Linked DNA regions of Homo sapiens: regions 2 and 3 are each reported to be linked to region 1. The links are microRNA targets in miRTarBase. Many come from high-throughput screens and were not tested one by one. Region 1 holds a microRNA gene; each other region holds the end of a gene's coding sequence. Distances are from middle to middle.
Evidence for each region. Region 1 holds the annotated microRNA hsa-miR-4753-5p (CAAGGCCAAAGGAAGAGAACAG, at 1,639-1,660, opposite strand). A microRNA usually pairs through its seed, bases 2 to 8, with sites in the 3' UTR of a target mRNA and lowers its output. Matches are read on the target gene's strand: a 7mer-m8 pairs with bases 2 to 8, a 7mer-A1 pairs with bases 2 to 7 and ends in A, and an 8mer does both.

Region 2: miRTarBase lists SLC25A34 as a target of hsa-miR-4753-5p. Seed matches in the 3' UTR shown: 7mer-m8 at 1,671-1,677.
Region 3: the mRNA of SERINC5 is a reported target of hsa-miR-4753-5p. The part of its 3' UTR that is shown has no 7-base or 8-base seed match.

The regions. Positions count from the first base shown.
Region 1 is chr1:235,188,448-235,192,624 of GRCh38, forward strand. MIR4753 (microRNA 4753) reads right to left here and starts at 1,669; the gene lies at 1,587-1,669. The region is part of intron 19 of ARID4B (AT-rich interaction domain 4B); the gene reads right to left.
Region 2 is chr1:15,738,853-15,743,029 of GRCh38, forward strand. It overlaps SLC25A34 (solute carrier family 25 member 34), which reads left to right. Exons shown (of 5, transcript NM_207348.3): 5 at 372-2,540. The coding sequence ends at 554. TMEM82 (transmembrane protein 82) reads left to right here and starts at 3,647. Exons shown (of 6, transcript NM_001013641.3): 1 at 3,647-3,795; 2 at 3,983-4,055; 3 at 4,168-4,177. The coding sequence starts at 3,708. It overlaps SLC25A34-AS1 (SLC25A34 and TMEM82 antisense RNA 1), which reads right to left. Exons shown (of 2, transcript NR_149050.1): 2 at 1,199-1,370. RefSeq lists enhancers at 2,757-2,826, 3,228-4,008.
Region 3 is chr5:80,140,360-80,144,536 of GRCh38, reverse strand. It overlaps SERINC5 (serine incorporator 5), which reads left to right. Exons shown (of 12, transcript NM_001174072.3): 12 at 727-4,177. The coding sequence ends at 874. Among named protein-coding and RNA genes, the nearest start is that of THBS4-AS1, 59 kb to the right of the region's middle.

The DNA.
Region 1 (4,177 bases):
ATTACTTAGATGCCTAGATCCCCACCTCACTTCAGGTTGGAAGGTGACTGCCCTTCTAGAGCTTTATTCTCTGAAGACAGTAGGAGAGGGCTCCTAGCCTGGGAGATGCTAACAACTGTTGAAGGCACAGGTACAGATGCGATGCTGAAATTAGGGGGATTCATGAACATATCTAACCACTAAGAATCCTCCACCCCACTCTCTGTTCTTCAACTAGATCCTAGAACACTGGAAACCATTCTCTTACCACCCTCCAGTCAAGAGATTGGAACTCTTTTCTCTGGAAGCCAACTAGTCTAAGAGAAAAAGACCTAAAGACTTCATATTATGAATTCCCTAGGACATGGCCAACCAGATCACCCGATAGTGAAACTCAAGGTCAACAAGTGCCAACCATATGCTTGCAATTTCCAAATCAGTTTAGTCTTTCCTTCATAATCATAAGACAGCCAGGAAAAAAAATTCTTAATAGGGAAGAGCTCAAAACAACAACACAGAAAAAAGCAAATTAGAGGTAACTGAAAAAACCAAAAATTATAAAATCCTTTGAAAGATCAAAATCCGAAAGGTAAGGTATTGCATCCATCTATAAGAACAGAGTGGTACAAAACACACAGAAAACAGAGCTCTTGAAAAATTAAACTAGTTTAATTTAAAAATATTCATTGAAAGGCTGGGCGCAGTGGCTCACGCCTATAATCCCAGCACTGTGGGAGGCTGAGGCAGGTGGATCACAAGGTCAGGAGTTCAAGACCAGCCTGGCCAAGATGGTGAAACCCCATCTCTACTAAAAATACAAAAAATTAGCTGGGTGCGGTGGCAGGCGCCTGTAATACCAGCTACTCGGGAGGCTGAGGCAGGAGAATCGCTTGAACTTGGAGGGCAGAGATTGCAGTGAGCCGAGATCATGCCACTGCACTCCAGCCTAGGCAACAGAGTGAGACTCAGTCTCAAAAAAAAAAAAAAAAAAAAAAAAATCATTGAAAACTTAAACATTACAGCAAAAAGTCAACAAAAGGATTAAAAGACAAAGCAGATAAAATTTCAAAGAAATAAAAAGACAAAAAAATTAATAAAAAGCAAGAAATTAAAAGGTGAGCATATTAGAGTATATTACAGAAGGTATAATATCAAATAATGGCTGGCCAAAGAAAGATAACAGCCAAGTGCAGTGTCATGCACCTATACCCCAGCTACCCAACTACTTGGGAGGCTGAGGCAGGAGGACTGCTTGAGCCCAGAAGTGTGAGAACAGCCTGGGCTGAACATAGTGAAACACAGTCTCAATTAAAGAAAAAAAAAAATTTGGCAGGGCTGGGACAGTAGCTCATGCCTGTAATCCTAGCACTTTGGGAGGCTGAGACAGGAAAATCGCTTGAGCTCAGAAGTTTGAGACCAGCCTGGGCAATATAGTAACACCTCATCTCAAAAATAGTAACAATGAACAAAAATTAAAAAGGAGAGAACAGTAAAATGCAGGAGAGGAAATCATCAAGAAAATCATTCAAAAAAACTGCCTAGAACAGAAAGACAGAAGTTGCTAGAATGAAAGAGTCTAGCAAGTAGGCATCACAGGGGATGAAAATATATCTACACAAGGCTAAAGAAAGAGAACAGCCAAGTGTACTGTGGATATATCTGTTCTCTTCCTTTGGCCTTGTGTAGATATATTTCAGAGTTAAATTTCTGGATACGAAAAACAAAGATTCAAGATTCCTAGCAGGGCATGGTGGCTCATGCCAGTAATCCCAGCACTTTGGGAGGCTGAGGTGAGTGGATCACTTGAGGTCAGCAGTTCGAGACCAGCCTGGCCAAAATGGCAAAACCCCATCTCTACTAAAAATAGAAAAACTAGCCAGGCGTGGTGGCAGGCCCCTGCAATCCCACCTACTCGGGAGGCTGAGGCAGGAGAAACACTTGAACCCAGGAGGCAGAGGCTGCAGTAAGCCAAAATTGTGCCACTGCACTCCAGCTTGGCCAACAGAGTGAGATTCCATCTCAAAAAAAGAAAAGAAAAAAAAAAGATTCCAGAGACAGAAAAGCAAAAAATAAAGAATAAAACAAGTCACATACAAAGAATCAGGAATTGGAAGAGCTCTGGACTTCACAAAAGCAATACTGGAAGCAAAAAAACAATTCAACACTGCCAATAAAATACTGAAGGAAAAACTTCCAATCCAGCCAAACTATGAATAGAATAAAGATATTTGCAAAAATAAATACAGATATTTAAATGCAGCCAATCTCTAAAAATTCCATCTCATGCACTTGTTCTTTAGAAGCTACTAGAGAATGTGCTCCACCAAAATGAAAGTATGGGGGTGGGGAGGAACCTGAGATGCCAAAAACAAAGAAATCCAAGAACTACATTAAAGGAGATCCCTAGAATGGGATCTCCCTAGGAAAATAGCTGTGCAACAGATATAGAGGGAAACCAGTCCAGACTACAGCAGTGTTATTTCCAAAGAAAGTCATACTGCAGGCTATTATCATTAAGCTACCTGCTACCGCCTCTCTGTAGTCTTTGAATGCCTGAGTGACCCAGACTGGATTTTAAAATCTGTATTTATCTTGTTTCAACTATGTGTCAATGAAATTCCAGCTCTCCCTTCCATGTCTTATGTGCCACTACCTAGATCAGCTAATGACATCATTTTATCCAGCAGAAACATTCTGACCTACTTGTGAAAAATAGGGGTAAATCACCATAAGCCTAGAATGAGAATATATATAGAGTAGTCTGCTACTACGACTGAGCACACTCCCACATAACATCCACTGCGAATGTGTCACATATTCTTTTTATTTTATTTTTTTTAAGATGGAGTTTCGCTGTTGCTACCCAGGCTAGAGTGCAATGGTGTGATCTTGACTCACTGCAACCTCTGCCTCCTGGGTTCAAGCGATTCTCCTGCCTCAGCCTCCCAAGTAGCTGGGATTACAGGCACCCACCACCACACCCGGCAAAGTTTTTGTATTTTTTTTTTTAGTAGAGACAGGGTTTCACCATGTTGGCCAGGCTGGTCTCAAACTCCTGACCTCAGGTAATCTGCCCGCCTTGGCCTCCAAAAGTGCTGGGATTACAGGAGTGAGCTACTATGCCCAGCCAAATGTGTCAGATATTCTAACTGTAGTGGACCCCTAGGTTTATCAGAACTGGCTTATGACCTGTCCAACTGAATTCTCTAGAGGGGCTTTTGTAAACTCTCAGAGAAGCTAAATCTGAAATCAGAGTATGACTTAGAATCTCTATTCAGGTAACATTCTCAGAAAGCCTTCATCTGAGCCTTCTTATAAAACTAGGCTTATGCTTGTTACTCAATTTTTAAAAAACTAAAAAACAGGCTGGGTGCAGTGGCTCATGCCTATAATCCTAACACTTTGGAAGGCTGAGGCAGATGGATTGGATTGCTTGAGTCCAGGAGTTTGAGACAAGCCTGGGCAACAGGGTGAAACCCCATCTCTACAAAAACTACAAAAAATAGCCTGGCATGGTGGCACACACCTGTAGTTCCAGCTACTTAGGAGGCTGAGATGGAAAGGTCGCTTGAGCCCAGGAGGTCACTTGAGTCGTGATAGCACCACTGCACTCCAGCCTGGGTGACAGAGCGAGACTCTGCCTCAAAAACAAAAACAAAACAAAAAAACACCCTAAAAAAATGAAGTAAAATAAAAATTACTTAGGAATATAAATATAGATAATTCAATTCTGAAGAAAAGTAAAGCAAGGATTACACAAAAGTCCAGACTATAATTACTTCTGGGAGGAGACATACTACGAAGTAAAATAAAAATTACTTAGGAATATAAATATAGATAATTCAATTCTGAAGAAAAGTAAAGCAAGGATTACACAAAAGTCCAGACTATAATTACTTCTGGGAGGAGACATACTACATGTTTTAAGTAAATAGTATTTGATTGCTACTGTGGAGACATACTAGTATCCATATTATTACTGTTCTTTAAACTATACATGTATTTTCCATGCACTATTTGCATGTAGGATACATGGGAAAATTTTTTAAAAATCAATTTAAAAATATTGCCCTAATTAGTACAGTGGTGAGTAAATAAAAATATAGTACAGCATTTGGTTTATAAAATAATGAGTTAATATAAACACACATCTACAATAAGAAACAAAAACTAGCTTCTATTAACATTCAAAATAAGT
Region 2 (4,177 bases), 220 Mb from region 1:
GGCCAGGTATGCAAACACATTAACTGGGCTTGTTTGCTGAGCCCCCGGGTCCCAGGCACAGGCTAAGCACTTTCACATCTGGATTTTATTCCATCCTTATAATCACATTCATCTTCCTGATGAGGAAGCTGAGGCTCAGACAGATCAACTGACTTGCATGAGTTCCCCCAGCTGGTAAGGGGAGGAGCCAGAACTGGAATTCAGGCCTGACCCCACAGCCTTCCCATGGCGCCGCAGCCTCACAGGTGTGTCCAATACAAAGGTGCTGTCCATAGGGTGTGTGGGGGTGAAATTGACCCGTGTGCCAAGATGTGGTGCCAGCCAGGGCCTCAAGGCCCCTGTAGTAACACTCACCCCATGTCTTTCCCCAGGGCCAGCTCTATGGGGGCCTCACCGACTGCATGGTGAAGATCTGGCGGCAGGAGGGCCCCCTGGCACTCTACAAGGGCCTGGGCCCCGCCTACCTGCGCCTGGGCCCCCACACCATCCTCAGCATGCTCTTCTGGGACGAGCTTCGGAAACTGGCTGGGCGGGCCCAGCACAAGGGCACCTAGACGACGGCCCTCACCCCCACGTCCTGACACGGCCGGCACTTGGCCGGAAGTGAGAGCCTGCTCCAGGACAACTGGCTGTCCCGGGGCGGGCCATGGGCCCAGGCCCTGCCAGAGGTCCCGGGAGAGTGTGGACAGCTCTGGTCCATCCAGCCCCTTGGCCCACCCAGGTCCAGAGCATCCACTTCAAGTTACCACCCATTCTGTCTTCCAGACAGTTCTCTTCCTTCTCTGTACTGCGTACTGGGTCACCACATCCCAGAGCCTTGCTCAGTTATAGCAACTGCTGCGGGCGTGCACATGGCATAGGCCCAGTAACTTACATACATCGGCTCACTTAGGCCTCAGACAGCAGCACGAGGCAGGCACTTTTACTTCTTTTACCATTAGAAAGCCAAGGCCTAGAGTGGTGGGCTTTGACCACAGCCACACAATTTTGAAGTGGCAGAGCCAGGACTGGAGCTTAGCCCTGCTCACCCTAGACCTATGCGCTTGACAAGTGCGTGACTGTGACAGGCCCATGGGCCCGGACTGCCCATAGGGGTCACTGTACCATGGCAAAGGCTGAGGTGCACCAGGAGGCTGTGGCGTCGTCACCTGCCTTATTTGCTGGAGAAGCTGTAGCAAAGAACCACAGACTGGGCGACTTAGACAATAGAAATGTATTTTCTCACAGTTCTGGAGGCTGGATGCTGGAGACCAAGGTGTCAGTGGGCTGGTTTCTTCTGAGGCCTCTGTCCATGGCTTGCAGATGCTGCTTTCTCTCTGTGTCTGCACATGGTGGTCCCTCGATGTGCGTCTGGGTCCTGATCTCCTCCTCTTATAAGGACACAAATCATGTTGGCTTAGGGCCCACCCTCATGACCCCACTTTAATTTTTTTTTTTTTTTTTGAGATGAAGTCTCACTCTGCCACCCAAGCTGGAGTGCAGTGGCACGATCTCGGTTCACTGCAACCTTGGCCTCCTAGGTTCAAGCAATTCTCCTGCCCCAGCCTCCTGAGTAGCTGGGATTACAGGTGTGTGCCACCACACCCGGCCAATTTTTGTATCTTTAGTAGAGATGGGGTTTTGCCATGTTGGCCAGACTGGTCTCGAACTCCTGACCTCAAGTGATCCACTGGCCTTGGCCTCCCAAAGTGCTGGGATTACAGGCATGAGCCACCTCACTTGGCCCAATTTTAACTTAATTATCTCTGTCAAGAGCCTATCTCCATATACAGTCACATCCTGAGCTACTAGGGGGTAGGACTTCAACATGCACTTCTGCAGGGGCCGCAGTTCAGCCAACATCATCTTTTTTTTTGAGATGGAGTCTCGCTTTGTTGCCCAGGCTGGAGTGCGGTGGTGCAATCTCGGCTCACCACAACCTCCACCTCCCAGGTTCAAGTGATTCTCCTGCCTCAGCCTCCCGAGTTGCTGGGACTATAGGTGTGCGCCACCATGCCCAGCTAATTTTGTATTTTTAGTAGAGACAGGCTTTCGCTGTGTTGGCCAGGCTGGTCTTGAATGCCTGACCTTGCCGCCCGCCTCGGCCTCCCAAAATGCTGGGATTACAGGCGTGAGCCACCGCGCCTGGCCTCAGCCAACATCATCTAAGGGCTCTCACGGAGGGCCTCCCAGCTGCCCGCCCTGTGGGCATTTGCACATATCCTGACAAGCCTGAAAGAAGCTCCGGGTGCCCATTGTTCAGTCCAGGTGCCCATTGTTCCCGGGACTGAGGCCCGGGAAAGGGAAGCGACGTGGCAGGGCCAGCAGCAGACCCTGGGCCTTTCTCTAGACTGAGCACCATTCCCCGTGGGTGTGCTCTCAGCGCCGCACCGACCTTCACACTGCAGAGATGGATGCCAACTCCCTGGCAGGGGCAGGACTGCTGCCGAGCAGCCCCACCTGCCCTCCCAGCCACACCCCAAGTCTGTAAGGGCCGCTCCCAGGAACACCTGCTACTGCACACTCCAAACCAATAAAGTTTTATATTTTGTTTACTTCAACGACCCTCCTCTGTGGTGAATCTCAGTCTCCCCCATCCCTGACCCCCACCTTCTGCTCCCTCTGCCCTTTCTGTTTGTGAAAGCAGGATGGGAGCCGTGGTCCACCTGTTCAGCTCCGCCCTGCTGGACCCAGGTGAGGCCTGCCACCTAGTGGACCCAGGGAGGAGCATCAGGAAGGGCGGCCCCGGCCTGTGGGAGGAGAAGGCTCAGGCAGGCTCGGGCTGCAGGAGATTCCACACCGAGTCAGAGCCGGAGGCTTTGGGAAGCTGGAACCAGACCTTACAAAAAGCAGGCAGAGCTGACCTCCTGGCTGTGGGGGAAGAGAGCCCCAGACCTCAGGCTGAGAGGGCACAGCTGATCTCTGGCTATGGGGGGATAGAGTCCCTACTCTCAGACCCTGGGCTGAAGGGTCAGAGCCCACACTTCAGGCTGCAAGAGGACAGGACCCACACCTAAGGCGGGGCAGGACAGATGGAGCCTGGGACTTCGAAGGGGCATTGGGTGGTTCAAGCCCTCAAGGAAGATTGCTATTTTTTTTTTTTTTTTTTTTTTTTAGACAGAGTGTTGCTCTGTTGCCCAGGCTGGAGTGCAATGGTGTGATCTCAGCTCACTGCAACCTCCGCCTCCTGGGTTCAAGCCATTCTCCTGCCTCAGCCTCCCGAGTAGCTGGGATTACAGGTGCCTGCCACCACGCCCGGCTAATTTTTTGTATTTTTAGTAGAGACAGAGTTTTACCATATTGGTCAGGCTGGTCTCGAACTCCTGACCTTGTGATCTGCCCACCTTGGCCTCCCAAAGTGCTGGGATTACAAGTGTAAGCCACTGCGCCTGTCCTCCCTCAAGGAAGATTTCAAGTAAAGTGGATGCCAGACTTTAGCAGGGACAGAGACCAGAGACCAGCCCAGAGACACCTGTCCCTTCACCCCACACTGCCCAAATGGGGAGCCCGGGCAGCAGCTGGCTCCAGGCACCCCGTGTGCCTGGAGCTGGGACCTTGCCCTTCTGGGCCTCGAAGGGTTAACACCCCTGGCTCTCCTCCCCTCCCCTCCCCTGGGCCTTTGACCCCTCCCAGCCTCTCTCCTTCCCTCCACCGACACCTTTGCCCAGTGACGTTGGTCTGTCCTTACGCAGACCTGGCCGGAGGCTGGGGCTCCTTCCGGGGCTGCCATGTTCTCTCTTCCATCCCTCCCCTCCTGGCTCCCCGGCCTCCCCTCCCTCGAGTGGGGCTCTAGCCTCCTTGACTCCCTCCTGCAAGGTGAGCACCTCGCCCCATTCCTGCCTTGGCCCCGCCCCCTTCCAGCTCTTTGCAGTGCAGGGTGGACCCCACCCACCTGGTCTCCCGACACCCCTGCCCCTTGGCCGCCCCCTCTGACCCTACCAATGAAGCCTGCCCTCCTAACACCCCTGCACGCTGCCTCGCTGCCTCCCTCCCGCCCCCTCAGGCCTGATCGGGGCCCTTGGAGTCTTGGTCCTGAACAGCCTCCTGAAAGTTTACTTCTTCGTGGGCTGTGCCAAGTGAGTGCCCACCTCATCCCCCCAGGGAATGTGGCTGGGGGCACGGGGACCCCCACCAGGGGTCGAAGGTGGCAGTTCTGCACCCCTGCCCACACCCATTCTGTCCCCAAAGTGACCCGCAG
Region 3 (4,177 bases), not on the chromosome of region 1:
AGGCTATAATTAAAAAGGCAGATAATAACAAATGTCGAGGAAGTGGAGAAATTGGAACCCTCTTACATTGCTGGTTTGAATGTGAAATCTGCTTTGGAAAAGAGTTTGGCATCTCCTTAAACAATTAAACATTGAGTTACAATGTAATCCAGCTCTTCCACTACTCCTGAGCGTATACCTAAGACAAAAAGAAAACTAGGTCCACAAAACTTACACAGCGGTGTTCATACAAGCATCATTGGTGATAATCAAAAAGGGGAAACATCCCAAATGACCATCAGCTGGTGACTGCCTAAACAAAATGTGCTCTATCCATACAATAAGATACTATTTAGCAGTAAAAAGGAATGAAGGACTGACACATGCTGCCGCGTGGCTGAGCCTTGGAAATTGTATGCCAGGCAAAAAAGCCACACACAAGAGACCATGTGATTCCTTTTATATCAACTGTCCAGAATAGGCAAATTCATAGAGGCAGAAAGTAGATTGGTGAATGCGGGGGGTGGGCTGAGGGGGCCATGGGGAAGGGGAGAGCACCTAAGGGGTGCATGATTTCTTTTGGGGGTGATGAGAATGTTTGGAAATGGGTAGTGTTGATGGTAGCACAAGTCTGTGTATGAATACATTGAAAGCCGTTGAATTATACATTATAAATGGATGTGAATTAGTGAATTGTATCTCAATATATTCCTGCTTTGACCGCGGCTAGGTGTCTTGTTTCCACAGCTACGAAAGTGCCAACATCGAGAGCTTCTTCAGCGGGAGCTGGTCCATCTTCTGGGTCAAGATGGCCTCCTGCTGGATATGCGTGCTGTTGTACCTGTGTACGCTGGTCGCTCCCCTCTGCTGCCCCACCCGGGAGTTCTCTGTGTGATGATATCGGCGGTCCCCTGGGCTTTGTGGGCCTACAGCCTGGAAAGTGCCATCTTTTGAACAGTGTCCCCGGGGCAGGGACTGGCGCCCTGTGCCTGAGTGGGTCTGAAAAAGCTTTGAGAGAGAAAAAAAAAAATCTCCTGATTAGCTTTTTACTTTTGAAATTCAAAAAGAAACTACCAGTTTGTCCCAAAGGAATTGAAATTTTCAACCAAACTGATCATGGTTGAAATATCTTACCCCTAGGAACTGGATACCAGTTATGTTGACTTCCTTCTGCATGTTTTTGCCAAAACAGAATTTGGGGCACAGCATCTTTTCACAGGGATAAAAATATCTTGTGGGGCCAGTCATTCTCATCCTCGGAATAGAAAAACATGCCAAAATCTTGAGTCCCCAGCGCCTAACAGAATCCAGACCCCTCTCACTCACTTCCGCCTCTTAGAGCCTTGTCCCCAGGGGGCTTTGAGGACAGGACTCAGCCTGCAGGGCCCCTGGTATTTATAGGGTCCAAGAGGAGGCACCTGCTTTTCAACTGCACCCTCAGTGCTGCCTCTTCACGGCCCCTAAACGTTTCCCTTTGAGGTTGTGATGCTGGGAATCACAGACTTCACTCTCTGCCTGCACCCTTCCCCGAGGTCTCATCTTTTCTGGGTCCCACATCTTTGTAATAATGTGAAAAAGCACAATTTGTCTGATCACCCCCCAGGTGGTTCCCCACCTTATTATCACTACCTGATCCGAGTTACTGCAATAAGTACGGCGCTTATTTATGGTGTTATTCACATGATTATAGAACAAGATTCATGTTTTCTCTGCCTAAGCAATGGAGGGCTATCATTCTTACTTGTTTGTGCTGTTGATAATGATAATACTTTTAGGACCTTAACTGAAAAGCTGCTTCGTGTTGAAGCCTGCTGCATGCACTGCTCTTTCAGTTGTTGAGGTCAGCCCCTCAGTTTTTTCTCCACCTTGAGGCCTTTGAAACTGTAAAAGCGGAAGTCGTTTTGTGTTCTGGATCTGTAACGTGACCATACCGTTCAGGTTCATGCTGGCATCCTTGGAGTAGGTTTGCTAATGTGAGAATTTCTGAGGTGAGGATCTCAGACACACTGACCAGAAGAAGCTTGTTAGGCAATGTGTGGAAGTGGCCGAATATACTTAAAAAGAGGTGCGCAGAGGCAGGCGGATCACTTGAGGTCAGGAGTTGCAAGACCAGCCTGGCTAACATGGTGAAACCCTGTCTCTATTAAAAATAGAAAAATTAGCCGGGCATGGTAGCGTGTGCCTGTAATGCCAGCTACTCGAAGGCTGAGGCATGAGAATCACTTGAACCCGGGAGGCGGAGGTTGCAGTGAGCCGAGATCACGCTGCACAGGAATTTCCAAAATACGTACTTGCAAAGTAATACAGAAACGTGACTTTCGGCAGCTACCCAAGATGATGCCTATTTTCAGTGTTGATGTATTCAGGCAGGGAAAAGGTTTACTTGGTGGAAACTCCTGTTAGAATTTCATTCGGGGTGGAAAGAATCTTCTCGAGCTCTCTGTAAGTGAGGATCTAAGAATAAAAGGCTCAGCCTAGTCATTTTTTTCTGTGCCCTACTGTATGAGTTGGGCAGAATTGAGTGCCACCTAAGCTGGGCTTCTGTGTGCCAAAATGCTGGTGGGTGAAATTAGTGAAATTCTTTCTATTCATTCCTTTGCCCTTCTCCCAAGAAAACCCATGGGGAAACAAATTACAGGGGATGAATTCCTTTAGAACTTTCCCTACTTAGAGTGTTTGAGATTCAGTTTCAAAAGGCACTCCATCTGTGTGTGTGGTTTAGAGAGCCTTGTTTTGTAAATTCCATTAAATTTCCTTTTTTAGGGCAGGAGCTCTGTACTCAGCAGTTAAAAGATTCATCTGGAGTCGCAAAATGAAAAGCCGTGTTCTAACCTGAGGAATCAGTTAGGGGACAGGAGTTCCGTGGGCCAGGAATGGGCTCAGGGAGTGGGGCTGCGTGTCACACACAGTAGCTGTGTTGCAGTGGCCTAGGGCCTTGGGGGTTGTCTTTAGGAAACACCCTGAGGGGAAGCAGGTAAAGAGCCTGGGCAGTATTGTGACTAGTTTCATTGTTTTCCTCCTGCTGAGGTCTAGCAGAGCCCTTGCTTTGTCCTCTCGGCTGGGTCTGGCTGCCAGCTGGTGTGATTTGAGAAACTGACCTTACGCGCAGTCAAGGTCCAGCTGACAAGGCCTTGTATTCCTTGGCTGGCCGTGATTGGCCCTTTCCTCTGCAGAAAGCAGCTTAGGGAAGCCCAAGCAAGGGAGTGTGGCCGGTAGAAGGCCCTCGTCGCTTCCTTCTGGAGCCAGCCCAGCCACACAACGTTTTCCAGATGCGTGAGTCTGGTTTGTGACATCCCGTTCCCTTCTGCCGGTTGGTCTGATGCAAGAGGAAGAGTTACAGTTGCTCTGAATTTTATTCTCAGCTGAAAATGTTAGCACGTGTATCTGGATGAACAAAACAGATGTGGATGTATCTGAGGATTGAGGGACTATCAATGCAGAGTTAATGTTAATGGTTATTAATTGTGATATACAATACTCAGGTGAGGAGTCAACATTCCTGGATTTAAAGAATCTACAGTTTTGTGCAATTGTGATTTGAGAAACTGGAAACATTGTGCCAATGGCTTTGAGTTCCTATAACAACGGTGTTAATTTGATTAACTCACTGATATCTTTTAAAAATAATAGACATTTGCTTCCTACACCTTTTTGTACATGACCTAAAGAGTATATTCCCAGAAGCTGCTGGTCAGACACATTTAGGGATGACAGTTGAAGAGGACTTTTTTAAAGCTGCATGTGAATATTTCCTCTGTGTGATTTGTCTGATGTAGAAAAGTTTTCCCCTCATTTTTATGAGTAAAAACACTAAGTGGGTGGCAGGGGGGTGGGGGTTCTTATGGGAGTGTCATACCGCGGCATGTTACCTGACTGGAGACTAGAGACTATTTCCATTATAAGCCTTCAGAAACCCAACCACGTCTTTACTGTGTCTAGCTTTTTAAATACTGATTGGTTAGTTTTATTTTTGCCCACAGTTTCTTGGGCAAAAAGGTTCTTCATTTTGTCTGAAAAAGAAATTATTTGCCAGAGGTATTTGGAGCCTCTTTGAAGGGGAGATAGAGTGGGGGTGGGTTGTGGGGAGGGTGGAGTTATTGGGGTTTTGGGGTTCTGTTTCCATACAACATTGTTTATTTCCGATTCCTCAGAAGATCCTTTATTATGAATAACCTCAGTGTAATGTTAATTTCCTGTC